2 linked regions of the Homo sapiens genome follow. The protein of the gene in region 2 purifies or fractionates together with the protein of the main gene of each other region. This does not show direct contact. Each region holds a gene or a part of one and is shown on either strand. Other genes may lie near its edges.

Region 1 (7,035 bases), on a different chromosome or scaffold from region 2:
CCAACCTAAACCCATATGCCTTTTGGTCAATCAGAGGTTCTGCTCCTACAGATTAGGCTGACAGCTCTTGGACTTATATTTATTAATATTTGTGAAATATGAACTCCAAGGTTCTTGAGCTGTTCCTAAAGCAAGTTTCCAGCAACAGCTTTTATTAACAACTGTTCATCTTGCGATGTGCTGTGCCTTATGAACGATGTCTCGTCAGAACAGACCAGGGGTGGTACTGGGTTTCCTATAGCTTCTCTCTGCATCTACAAAGCAGGTTTTCAAACACATTTTACATGTCGAAACCAGTGTCATAAGGAAAACATTTGTGACAGAAAAACAATGCTCAGTTTAATCTAAGTTACCAAGCAGAAGGTAAAAGAACTAGTATCCGCTGAGTCCCCAAACCTCTTTCTTCTAATTCATCTGAGGATTTTTTGTGCTTCTAGAACAAGAATGTAGGCAGGCTCCCAAATGGAGAGGTAAACATGACCGCGTTGTTTGAAACTACTTCATTAATTTGTAAATCAGAACCAAAAAGCTCTGGCCCTCCCACTTCTCTTAGCTGACCCTCCTCCCCACTTACGGATAAACAGACTTTAACTTCCCTAACCCAGAAACACTTCCACCAAAAATGTATGGTTATACCTTATCCTAAAAAGGCACCATGCAGGCATTTAAGACTGAACCAGTGAACTCTAAATATGTAGTAGTAGAAAATATCACTAATCAAAACTTCCAGCATCAGATGGTACAAAACCCCAAGAGGACTGGTGACATGTACCCCGGGATGGCAACCCCAGCTTCTGGCAACCCCACAGCCCAGCGGGAGCTTCAGCTCTGGTCAGGTGCACGGCTGCCAAAGTCTGCACACCTTGGGGACAAGGAAAGGAGACACTTGCTTCATTGTGCTATTCATGACCCAGAAAAGGTCCTGGCTGGCTTGAAGGACCCGAGAGACAAACACTGGATGGGAGGAATGAGTGTGAAACAAGAGGTGGAGAAGCTAGATTATCTTCCACAGGAGGCGGCAGAAGCTCCAGGAAGTAGCCGAGAACCAATACGAACTCGACCGTGTGACAAACAAGGTTAACAGTAGGGGAAGACAGCTTTGGCAAGAGCCCAAAGGGAAGAGAAGGGCTGACCTGGGGACCCACTTCCCCTGTCAGAAGTGACCCTGTCCCAATGCCATGGCTCATTTTCAGGTCTGTTGAACAGGTAAGGTACAGGAGTCATAGATTTCACGTTTAATATGTAATGGAAGCTCTGTAACATGAGACAGATAGCAAGCACGGACTCTGCTCACTGGTCGATGATGGAGCGCTGCAACACCTGATTCATCATGTCCTCTTCATCAACATCATAATCCTAAGGGCAAAAAGAGACATGCAGCCTCAGCAACTGTTTCTAGATGCAAAGACTGGCTTTCAGTAGAAGCAGGACAGCCTAGCAACTGGATCCGGAGCAGGTTGCCAGGGACCGGATCCCCAGTGCAACTGTTTGTGATGCTAGGTATGTAACTTTGGGAAAATTAATCTGTCTCTGCTGCCTTCTCTTTTTTTTTATTTGATGGAGTCTCGCTCTGTTGCCAGGCTGGAGTGCAGTGGCACAGTCTTGGCTCACTGCAACCTCTGCCTCCCAGGTTCAAGTGATTCTCCTGCCTCAGCCTCCCGAGTAGCTGGGACTAACAGGCGTGCGCCACCATGCCCAGCTAATTTTTATGTTTTTAGTAGAGACAGGGTTTCACCATGTTGGCCAGGATGGTCTCAATCTCTTGACCTCGTGATCCACCCGCCTTGGCCTCCCAAAGTGCTGAGATTACAGGCATGAGCCACTGCACCCAGTCTGCTGCCTGATTCTTAAATGAAGTTAAGGATGCCTCCCTTAAATGGAGATTGAGAAACCCAGACAGCACACGAATGGAGGCTGGCACAGACCAAGTGCTCAGAACATTTGTAAGTCTGTCGGAACAGAGCACGCAGATGCACTGAGCTGAAGAGTTGTTTCTGAGAGGTGGAATCAGTGCACAGTACAGAATCAGATTTTTAGAGCCATACAATACAGCAGAAACTATAGCGCAACTAGCCCTCTTTAATGAGTCATTTTTAGGACTCATTTTTAATGAGTCATTTTTGTTAATGTGACACAGATGAATGTAATTCATCTGTGTCACATTAACAAAAAGGGCAGTTATTCTGAAGTCTGAGTTTCAGACACTGTCAGACTGAGAAAAAATATTCTTTATGACAATTTAGCAGAGAGCTTTCTTTCTTAGATACTGAAATTCAGCCATCAAGACCGAATACCACTCTAAAATCCTAACTTGACATCTATATATGTAAGTAAGAGGTTTACTTGATATAGTTGGCCAAAGTTACCTACTACTATAATGGCAAGACAACAGTGTGCCCCTTTGAAACCATCCAGCTCTAGGGAAAGAATATAAACCTGACAGCCGTATTTGGCTAGTGGATATATGCTATTTGACCTGAAGTATTTTTGAAGATAATTAAAACCTGTGAAACCTCCTGTGAAATTTTCCTGTCCTGCTTGGGCATGGGGGGTGGAGAAGCTAGGCAATGCTGCGCCTGCATTTCCATAGGAAAACAAGGTGATGGCAGCATAACGAGTCAGGCACCACCTGGCTTGGAAATCCTCAGGAGGATCATTTCAATTATGGTCCCCATGGACATGCGAGATTGAGCCTCCCAAGTCCAAATTGTTGTTGTGTGTGTGTGTTTTGTTTTTTTTTTTTTTTTTTGAGACAGGGTCTCATTCTGTTGCCCAGGCTGGAGTGCAGTGGCATGATCTCAGCTTGCTGCAACCTCCGTCTCTTGGGCTCAAGAGATCCTCCTGTCCCAGCTCCCTCAAAGTAGCTAGGACTACAGGTAGGAGCCACCACACCTGGTTACTTTTTGTATTTTTTGCAGAGACAAGGTTTTCCCATGTTGCCCAGGCTGGTCTCGAACTCCTGAGCTCAAGCGATCCACCTGCCTCAGCCTCCCAAAAATGCTAGGATTGTAGGTATGAACCACTGCACCGCACCTGTCCCCAAACCAAGTTCTATAACAGGCAGAAATTATATAAACCACAAGAAAAGTAGACAAAAATTTGGTGGCAGGGCTAGGAGATGGAAAGAGCAAGTATCACTGTCTCTGTCTCAAAGACTGACCAGATCATCTTCTTGTTTGTTTTGAGACAGTCTTGCTCTGTTGCCCAGGCTGGAGTGCAGTGGCACGATATTGGCTCACTGCAACCTTGCCTCCCAGGTTCAAGCGATTCTCCTGCCTCAGCCTCCCAAGTAGCTAGGATTACAGGTGCCCACCACCACACCTGGCTAATTTTTTTGTATTTTTAGTAAAGACGGGATTTCACTATGTTGGCTAGGCTGGTCTCGAACCCCCGACCTCAGGATCCGCCCACCTCGGCCTCCCAAAGTGCTGGGATTACAGGTGTGAGCCACTGCGCCCAGCCCAGATCATCTTCTTAAATGTCACTCTGGGCCGGGCGTGGTGGCTCACGCCTGTAATCCCAACACTTTGGGAGGCCAAGGTGGGCAGATCACGAGGTCAGGAGTTCGAGACCAGCCTGGCCAACATAGTGAAAGCCTGTCTCTACTGAAAGTACAAAAAGTAATGGGGCATGGTGGCATGCGCCTGTAGTCCCAGCTACTCAGGAGGCTGAGGCAGGAGAATCACTTGAACCCGGGAGGTGGAGGCTGCAGTGAGCTGAGATCACGCCACTGCATTCCAGCCTGGGCGACAGAGCAAGACTCCATCTCATGTAAGTAAATAAATGTCACTCTGGCCACCTGCCTGGCCCATGAATAGAAACTGTATAGTAGCTACAGTATACAGACTGGAAGCCCATCTAGCTCCCCAGCTACAGCTGCCTGCCCGCCTCTTCCACTCAGTCTTCTTTTCTCTCTTGTCAATCCCCTTTATCACTGTATCCAGTATACAGACTGGAAGCCCATCACAACAGCGACAAAGTTCAACACTGGGGATCCCCATTTCCCCTTTTGAGAAGAGTGAAGTAGCCGTGCCACTCCCCCAGGGGAGGGATCAGAGCCCAGGCTCCAGACTTACCACAAAAGTGTCATAAGAAAACCGGTGCCGGCGCTGGATGTGCTCTCTGAAGTTGGCGCTGCGGTAGTTGGGGTCTCCCCAGGGCATCGAGGCACATATCGGACAAACCTTTCAACACAAAAGCAAGGTCTTAGGCACCCAATTTCCAAGCTTGCACCAGCCCTCTGTGGCCTGTGTCTGGCCTCCTTTCTTCCAGGACAGCTTTCCTGACATACTGTCCAGGGCCAGTAACTCCTTCCTGTGCACATCAGCAGCCCAAAAAAACACTGCAAATTTCCAGCTCAAGTCAAATGACACGTGGGACTGGGTAAAGTTCAAATCATGATACCACCCTTTCTCATTCCCTACTGTAAGCAGAGAAGTGAGTCAGCCTGGTGGGGGGCCTAGACTGGCCTTCCAATCCAGCACACAAGACAATCCAAAAGCATGAGGAAAACTAAGAAAATAAGCCGATGAGCAATGTCCCAGGGAAGTAAAACACAGCCTTACATGCATCTTAACAAAGGAAATGCTCAGAAGAGGGGGATCAGGCTGAAAAGCCCTCACACAAAAGGTTGATTTGGTTTTTGAAGATTGGGAAGTATTTGGAAAGGCAAAGAGGACATGAAAGAGTGCTCCAGGCCGGGCACAGTGGCTCACACTTGTAATCCCAGCACTTTGGGAGGCCAAAGCGGTAGATCACCTGAGGTCAGGAGTTTGAGACCAGCCTGGCCAACATAGTGAAACATCTTCTCTACTAAAAATACAAAAATTAGCCTTGCATGGTGGCACACGCCTGTAGTCCCAGCTACCTGAGAGGCTGAGGCATGAGAATCGCTTGAACCCTGGAAGTGGAGGTTGCAGTGAGCCAAGATTGTGCCACTGCACTCCAGCCTCCAGCCTGGGTGACAGAGTGAGACTCTGTCTTAAAAAAAAAAAAAAAAAAATTGTGCTCCAGAAGAGAGGCAGCAGCACGGAGAAAAGGCCAGAAGGCGGCAGTTACTGTCAACACATGTAAACAACCAGACCAGTGAGTGCAGAAAACTCATGCCAGGGAGAGAGAAGACCTAAGTGCCCCCACTTAAAGGTGGAACCCTACCCCACAGCAAGGAAGATACAGTGATAAAGGGGATTGACAAGAGAGAAATCTGGAATGGTAGAAGACTGAGTGGAAAAGGTGGGCAGGCAGCTGTAGCTGGGGAGCTAGAACATAGGGTGGGACTAGAGACTGAAAAGGAGATGGCTTCTAAAGGGAAGGGAGAAACGCAGAGTTAAGAACTTGCAGAGGGCCGGGCGCGGTGGCTCACGCCTGTAATCCCAGCACTTTGGGAGGCCGAGACGGGCGGATCACGAGGTCAGGAGATCGAGACCATCCTGGCTAACACGGTGAAACCCCGTCTCTACCATAAATACAAAAATTAGCCGGGCATGGTGGCGCGCACCTGTAGTCCCAGCTACACGGGAGGCTGAGGCAGGAGAATGGCGTGAACCCGGGAGGCGGAGCTTGCAGTGAGTCGAGATCGCGCCACTGCACTCCAGCCTGGGCGACAGAGCGAAACTCCGCCTCAAAAAAAAAAAAAAAAAAAAAAAAAAAAAAAAAAAAAAAACTTGCAGAGGGAGAGGAAGACAGAACAGAGGGCCAAAGGCTGAAGAGAAGGCCTCAACATAGACAACATAATCAGAGGGATTTCAGAAGCCAAAGGAGGGGAAAAAGACAGAAAATTAGGCTGCCATACCAGAAAAGTTCAGCAATAACAGTATCCAACAAAATTATGAGTGCAAGTAACATTTAACCAAGTCAATCTGTATCTAAGACTTTAGCTTATAAACATACATAGATACAGGCAAAGATATGTTTCTCAAAATGGCCAGTTCCATCTTAAGATGAGCATTGATAGCTGCCCTAGTACTCTCACAAAAGCTCATTAAAATTCTAAAATTTCTGCACCACTGTTTACAGCAATGGAGCTGAAGGCTGCCCATACAACAGAGTATGTAGTTCAAGAGAAGCAGTATGAGATAAATGGAAAAATTAAAACTATAGAGGAAGTATACACCTAACTATAAAAAAAGACCTGGTCTGTCAATCACATTGAGAGAGAAAGGTAACACATTGCTAAGATGGAACAAATACTTTTTTGGGGGGGGGGGGGGGGGGGGGGGCAGTTTTGTTCTGCTGCCCAGACTAGAGTGCAGTGGCAGGATCTCAGTTCACTGCAACTTCTGCCTCCCAGGTTCAAGCAATTCTCATGCCTCAGCCTCCCAAGTAGCTGGGATTAAAGGCGCCCGCCACCATGCCTGGCTAATTTTTGTATTTTTAGTAGAGATGGGGTTTCACCATGTTAGCCAGGCTGATCTTGAACTCCTGACCTCAACTGATCCACCCGCCTTGGCCTCCCAAAGTGCTGGGATTACAGGTGTGAGCCACCGTGCCCAGCCTACATTTTTTTTTTTTTAAAGGAGACTACACATGCCAGTAGGTAATATCTGAGTAAAATGTCCAAGGATTGATAAGCCTTTTCCTAATAATTTCACCTAAATCCTCTTTCCCCACAACTATGAAGAAGCTACTTCCAAAAATAAAATGGCAGCTTCATGGAGAAATTTGGTGGACACCAAGGGAACCAAGTTAATGTTACCAACAACAGACATCACATGACTTAATGTAGCACCCAGAGGACAGAGAACTCGTGTACCATCCCTGCCTCTGCCTTGGGGGGAGGGGGAAATTGCTATGAAAGACATTACAATTGTTAAAATTAAAACATGAATTTCACATTAGACATTAGATTGAATCAATGTTAAATTTCTTGAATATGATTAATTATACACACAAAAATATAATTTTCCAAGAAAACATTCTTGTTCTTAAGACATACACACTCCTGTATCAGGGTGCGAAGTATTCAGGGTGCAAAAATGGTCATGGTATCTGTAGCTTATTCCCAAGTGGTCAGCAAAAAATGTGTACTATAGAGCA
Region 2 (6,838 bases):
ACCGCCCCCCGACCCCCACCCCGCAGCGCCCGCACGCGGCGCGCCTCTCCATCCTGGCCGCGGTCATACATGCCTGGTGGCTCCGCTCACTTCAGCTCTGCCGCCGCAGCCAGACTGCTCGGGCCGGGAGAGCGGCGGAGGCGGCGCAGGCGGGGCGAGCCCCGAGCCCCGCCCCGGCCCCCACCCAGAGCTGCGCCGCGCGGGCCCGGCCGAGAGCGAGCGAACGCTGCCAGCGAGATCGGGCGCCCGTGTCTGCGCGGGGCCGCCGAGATCTCGGGAGCGGCGGGGCTGGGGCCCGGGCGGGCGATTCGGCCAGGGCAGCGGCGCACACCTGAGCCCCCGGCGCACGGGGCGGGCCGGTAGTCAAGGAGACGCTGTCTGCGCCGGCGTGCGCGACACGGGAACGTCGTGCGCTCGCCCCGGTGAGCTCCGGGCCCCGCCCCGCACCCCGACGCCTCCTCGGAAGCAGCAGATCCCGCCCCTGGGCCGCGGAGATCCCCACTCCCCAAACAGAGGTCGCAGTCAGAGTTCCCGGGTCCCTTCCGCCTGGGTTCACGTTCACGTTTATTCAAACAACAGAGCCGACTCGGGCGAGGTCTGGGAGCGGCGGGCGGGCGGTGTCGCCTCCTGGGCTCTGCTGACCCCTGGTGGTGGGGTCGGCCCAGGCTGGGACCTAGCCCGGCCCCCCTCGGCCGCTGCTGACCGCCATCCCCCACACCGCCTTCTGGAGCCCGCAGAGGGAGGCAGGGGCGTCCCCGGGGACAGCTCAGGCGGCCACAGTTGGGGGCGGGGAGCATCAGCCTGTGCGGAGCTGGGAGCCTGGGAAGCAGGAGGCCAGAGGGTGGCCCCTTCGGTTAAGTGTCTGGGGAGCGGCCCGGGAGCCCAGAGGGGTCGTCGGGGGAAGCGCGGGGCACGTGCTCGCAGGTGATGAGGTGGGTGGGCAGCGCCTGGGTGTCGTGGAAGATGACGAAGATGCTGGGCTGGCAGATGCAGTCCACGGCGCTGTCGTAGCGCAGGAGCACGTGGCCAGGACCCCGCAGAGGGGGCGCCCGCAGACCGCGGCGGCCCTGCCCGTAGTCGCCAGTCAGCACCCGTGCCACGAACACCGCCTTATGGCCATCGGCGTTGGGGGGCGAGTAGCGGTCCTGCACCGACAGGGAGGCGCGCCTGGCGAAATACACGCCCTTCCCGTAGACCGTGGCTGCAGGGCGAGACGGGGCAAGGTCAGGGTGGTCGGGGTGCGCAGAGCCCCCGCCCCTGCCCGGCTCAGGCCTCACCGTTGCGGCCGCAGAAGCTGCGGTTGAAGCCGTGGGCGCAGATGTCAGGCACTGCCGGTGCCGTCGTGCCGTGGTACAGCACCTGCTCCACCGGGCGCCGCTCGCATCGCTGCAGCAGGCGCTCCCGGTACAGCTCATACTGCTGCTGCAGCAGCGGGTGCGACACGCGCTCCACCTGCGGGGAAGGCCCGGGCCAGGATTAAACACCCTCCCTACGCCCTGGGGCCGACGCAGGGCAGAGCTGAGCCTGGCAACCAGGAGCCCTCTGTTGGAGGAGTCCAGGGTTTGAGGGAGCCCTTGCAGCCCCCATCATGCTCTGTCCAGCAGCAGACAGTAACACCTCCGTGAAGCAAGTGACTTCAGAGGGCCGCTGGGGAGGCCTGACCCCTCCCCCTCCCGTGGAGGTCTGCGGGCGGGCAAACCCCACCCACTCAAGCGAGGCCTCTGCAGAGAAAAGCTGAGCCAGGGCCCTATGCTGCCTACAGGACTTGACTCCAACACGAGGAGATGCCACAGACCTCTCAGTGCTGAAAGACCCAGGTGGGAGAGAAGGCCTCAGGTGACCAACCTGACAGCCCTGGGAAACACTTTTAAAGAAATTTTAAATAGTTTCTTCAGAGAGTTGCAAAAGAACACCATGTCTATTAAACAAAACTAGCTGCTATGAAAAGGAACTAGTCTGAAAACCAGAGTGCTCCTGCATTCAGAAAGGGACGCTGAGCTAAATCTAGAGGGGGTGAGCCAAATGAGGAAGTGGTTCAAACTGAAGACCCAGCTAGCGTTCTAGATGGAGTTCAGGAACTGATGCAGAGTGAGAAGCTAACGGAAGAGAAAGGAACTCCGAGGGAGCAGGTGAGGGGGCCTGAGGTCTGAGCCGGCATAGCAGGAGCTCCACCGGCCGGAGCTCCAGCACACACAGGGAAGACGCTTCCCTGAGCTGAAGGAACATCTTCAGATACACAAGATCCGTGAAATGCCAAGAAGGACAATGAGGAAAGACAACGCCCCTGGCACCCACGTGCCAGGAAACCTCAACCTTCAGAGTGAAAGAAAACCCTGCAAGTTTTTTTTTTTTTTTTTCTTTGAGAGGGAGTCTGGCTGTGTCGCCCAGGCTGGAGTGCAGTGGCACGATCTCGGCTCACTGCAAGCTCCGCCTCCCGGGTTCACGCCATTCTCCTGCCTCAGCCTCCCGAATAGCTGGGACTACAGGCACCTGCCACCGCGCCCGGCTATCTTTTTTGTATTTTTAGTAGAGAAGGGGTTTCACTGTGTTAGCCAGGATGGTCTCGATCTCCTGACCTCGTGATCCGCCCGCCTCAGCCTCCCAAAGTGCTGGGATTACAGGCGTGAGCCACCGCAGCTGGCCAACCCTGCAAGTTTACACACACACACAACAAGGTCAATATGCAAACCGGAAGAAGTCTCACCTTCTCACATTGGGTCTCTCATTACCGACACCAGATGCTAAGAAACCATGGGGGGATATTTTTTAACTTTCCAAGAAAAATATTCTTTTAAGAATGAAGAAAAACAGCAATGTCTTCAAATATCTGAGGAAAAACATATTTTGAACCTGAACACTATATCCAGCCAAACTAGTAATGAAGAATGAGGACAAATAAGGGCATATTAGGACACACGAGAACATGGAAGTTCATACCAACATCAAATTACAGTTGCAAAATACCTCTAATTGTAAAGGGCAATATAAATTTAAAAGTCGGCCGGGTGCAGTGGCTCACGCCTGTAATCCTGGCACTTTGGGAGGCCAAGGTGGGTGGATCACTTGAGGTCAGGAGTTCGAGACCAGCCTGACCAACATGGCAAAACCCCGTCTCGCTGGGCATGGTGGCTCACGCCTGTAATCCCAGCACTTTGGGAGGCCGAGGTGGGCGGATCACGAGGTCGGGAGATCGAGACCATGGTGAAACCCCGTCTCTATTAAAAATACAAAATTTAGCCGGGCGCGGTGGCGGGCGCCTGTAGTCACAGCTACTCAGGAGGCTGAGGCAGGAGAATGGCGTGAACGCAGGAGGCGGAGCTTGCAGTGAGCCGACATCGTGCCACTGCACTCCAGCCTGAGTGACAGAGCGAGACTCCGTCTCAAAAAAAAAAAAAAAAAAAACCCGTCTCAGCCGGGCGCGGTGGCTCACGCCTGTAATCCCAGCACTTTGGGAGGCCGAGGTGGGCAGATCATGAGGTCAGGAGATTGAGACCATCCTGGCTAACATGGTGAAACCCCGTCTCTAATAAAAATACAAAAATAAGCTGGGCGTGGTGGCAGGCGCCTGTAGTCCCAGCTACTCAGGAGGCTGAGGCAGGAGAATGGCGTGAACCCGGGAGGCAGAGCTTGCAGTGAGCTGAGATTGCACCACTGCACTCCAGCCTGGGCTACTGAGTGAGATTCCGTCTCAAAAAAAAAAAAAAAAAAAAAAAAAAAAAAAACCATCTCTACTAAAAATACAAAAAGTAGCTGGGTGTGGTGGTGTGTGCCTGTAATCCCAGCTACTTGGGAGGCTGAGGCAGAATCACTTGAACCCAAGAGGTGGAGGTTGCAGTGAGCCGAGATCATGCCACTGCACTCTAGCCTGGGCAACAGAGAGAGACACTGTCTCAAAAAAATTATATATATAAATGTATATATTAATATATAAATGTATATGTTTAAACATATATGTTCACATATACGTAAATTTAAAAGTCAAATATGTTTAGCACCCACTCAAGGAGATACTCCCACTAAACAAAAGAGTCTGTGCCAAAAGGTGACAAGCGGGGTACTGAGTAACCCGGTGGTCAAGAATGGCCTGGAAAAAATGAAGAAAGTCAAAAAAAGAAAAGCCATTAGCCTTGAATCCTAGAACATCTTTTTTACAGAACAGAATTTTAATAACTAGGATTTCACTTCTCTTTCTATGGCTCAGTGGTAAATGTTTTTTCATTATTATAGTATGTCTACCAACCTATGGCCCACGCATGGAGGCTTTGTGATAGTTACAGAAACCTTTACGACATAATAAAAATAATGTAACTGACCAAATTGAGATGGAAGATGAGGGAGGAGGCAAAAGAGAGAGAAGCGAGGCCCATTCTCCTCATCTTCCATGCGGGAAGGCAAGAAACAATCTCTAAAGCTGTCAAGTGAAAAAAAAAAATTCAAGCATACCATTTAAAGTCATCAAGGTGCTCACTAAATTCAAGCATACCATTTAAAGTCATCAAGGTGCTCACCGGAAGAACCAAGTACGTATAATTAACAAAACCACCAGGATATGAGGTCAGTGCGTCTGGGTGGTGGTGATCCTGGTGGCGGTGAGCGGTGACGGTGTGTTGGTGAAGCTGACGGTGACAGTGGTGATGCTAATGGTGGTGATGATGGTGGCCACGGTGGTGGTGGTAGTGGTGGTGGTGATGGTGGTGACGACAGTGAGTGGTGAAGGTGATGGTGATGATGGTGGTGACGACAGTGAGTGGTGAAGGTGATGGTGATGATGGTGGTGACGACAGTGAGTGGTGAAGGTGGTGGTGATGATGGTGGTGACGACAGTGAGTGGTGAAGGTGGTGGTGATGATGGTGGTGACGACAGTGAGTGGTGAAGGTGGTGGTGATGGTGGTGACGACAGTGAGTGGTGAAGGTGATGGTGATGATGGTGGTGACGACAGTGAGTGGTGAAGGTGGTGGTGATGATGGTGGTGACGACAGTGAGTGGTGAAGGTGATGGTGATGATGGTGGTGACGACAGTGAGTGGTGAAGGTGGTGGTGATGATGGTGGTGACGACAGTGAGTGGTGAAGGTGGTGGTGATGATGGTGGTGACGACAGTGAGTGGTGAAGGTGATGGTGATGATGGTGGTGACGACAGTGAGTGGTGAAGGTGGTGGTGATGATGGTGGTGACGACAGTGAGTGGTGAAGGTGGTGGTGATGATGGTGGTGACGACAGTGAGTGGTGAAGGTGGTGGTGATGATGGTGGTGACGACAGTGAGTGGTGAAGGTGGTGGTGATGATGGTGATGGTGATGGTGGTGGTGATGACAGTGAGTGGTGAGGGTCATGGTGATGGTGTGATGGTGGTGGTGATGGTGATGGGGTGATGGTGATGATGGTGGTGATGATGGTGGTGAGGGTCATGGTGATGGTGTGATGGTGGTGATGATGGTGGTGAGGTCTGGGGACAGCCAGAGGTTCTTTTTGCATTTCTGACCAGCTCCTGGTGGAGGGTGATGCTGCTGGCCCCACGCACAACTTTGGGCATCAAGAGTTGAGAGTGCCCCGTGCAAGGCCGGGCGCGGTGGCTCACGCCTGTAATCCCAGCACTTTGGGAGGCCGAGGCGGGCGGATCACGAGGTCAGTAGATCGAGACCATCCTGGCTAACATGGTGAAACCCCGTCTCCACTAAAAATATTTTTTAAAAAATTAGCCGGGCGTGGTGGCAGGCGCCTGTAGTCCCAGCTACTTGGGAGGCTGAGGCAGGAGAATGGCGTGAACCCGGGAGGCGGAGCTTGCCGTGAGCCGAGATCGTGCCACTGCACTCCAGCCCAGGAGACACAGCGAGATGCCGTCTCAAAAAAGAGAGTGCCCCGCGCAGTGTCATCAGCACAGTGACCGCAGCGAGCCCGGGCCTTTCTGTGGAGGCAGAAGAGCGCCCAGAACAGCACAAGGGACGCATCTGTGGAGCGAGTAATCCTCAAAATGACCACAAGATGGCATCACCGCCCCATGCTCCAAATAAGGAAACTGAGGCCTGGAGCTGGTCCCATAGTCCCTGCTGACCCAGCCACGAGTGGCAGAGTGGGGACCCTCACTCAGGCCTATCAGATCCCAAGGCCCCCACTCTGTTCCCTCCTGTTTCCCTACCCACTTTGGGAACGCCCTCTGGGCAGAGAACAGGGCTGGGAGCCTGTCAGCTCCTGGTCAGCTGACCTTGATGTAGGCGAGAGGGACAGGCCACAGACTTGGCAAGGCGCTAATGGTGCAAGAGCCCAGGACGCCATGAGGCCAGAGAGACAGGGCATGGACTCACACGAACGACGCGGATGCTGCTGCGGGCAGCGTCCAGGGTGTCGTAGAAGGCCCGCACCACCTCCTGGAACTCCCCGGTGTTCTCTGCCAGACGCTCCAGGTTGTTCCAGGGCCCCTTCAGCGTCTGCCCCGCCACTGATGCATGGGGAAAAGCGGGGGGTCAGAGCCATGCCTGGGGCACTAGCCCCTGCTAACCAGCCCACCCCACCGTCCCTCAGTCCAGGAGGTAGACTCACAGGTAGGGCCTGAAGCTGCCAAGGGAAAGGCCAAACTCTGATCCCAGGGGCCAGCCAGAAGTGCCACCAAGTGGCGGGCAGCACGGGCAGGGTGGGCCCCGAAGCCACGGAGGATGGTGCAGTCACCACGCAGGGCAACACTCACACCATGGCACCGCTCCAGGCGAGCACGCAGCTCTGCAGGCAGTGTGCGGCGCCAGGGCCCCACCGTCTCCTCCTGGACGTGGACCTCCAAGGCAGCCCTGAGCGCCCGGTCCAGCTCCTCCACATCCTGCTCAAAGGCCGAGTGCACCACCAGCTG

Evidence for each region. Proteins that work in one complex are often made in the same cells at the same time.
Region 1: the proteins of PARP10 (region 2) and RNF114 purify together in Homo sapiens (affinity purification with mass spectrometry; 2 studies listed by BioGRID and IntAct, with this or other methods). This does not show direct contact.

What each region holds. Positions count from the first base shown.
Region 1 is NC_000020.11:49,946,397-49,953,431, reverse strand, and holds part of RNF114 (E3 ubiquitin-protein ligase RNF114), read right to left. Parts: intron 4,185-7,035; coding exon 4,077-4,184; intron 1,357-4,076; coding exon 1,291-1,356; 3' UTR 1-1,290. UniProt on the Homo sapiens protein: E3 ubiquitin-protein ligase that promotes the ubiquitination of various substrates. In turn, participates in the regulation of many biological processes including cell cycle, apoptosis, osteoclastogenesis as well as innate or adaptive immunity.
Region 2 is NC_000008.11:143,976,630-143,983,467, forward strand, and holds the end of PARP10 (protein mono-ADP-ribosyltransferase PARP10), read right to left. Parts: coding exon 6,538-6,838; intron 6,437-6,537; coding exon 6,303-6,436; intron 1,453-6,302; coding exon 1,278-1,452; intron 1,202-1,277; coding exon 855-1,201; 3' UTR 529-854; downstream 1-528. UniProt on the Homo sapiens protein: ADP-ribosyltransferase that mediates mono-ADP-ribosylation of glutamate and aspartate residues on target proteins. In contrast to PARP1 and PARP2, it is not able to mediate poly-ADP-ribosylation.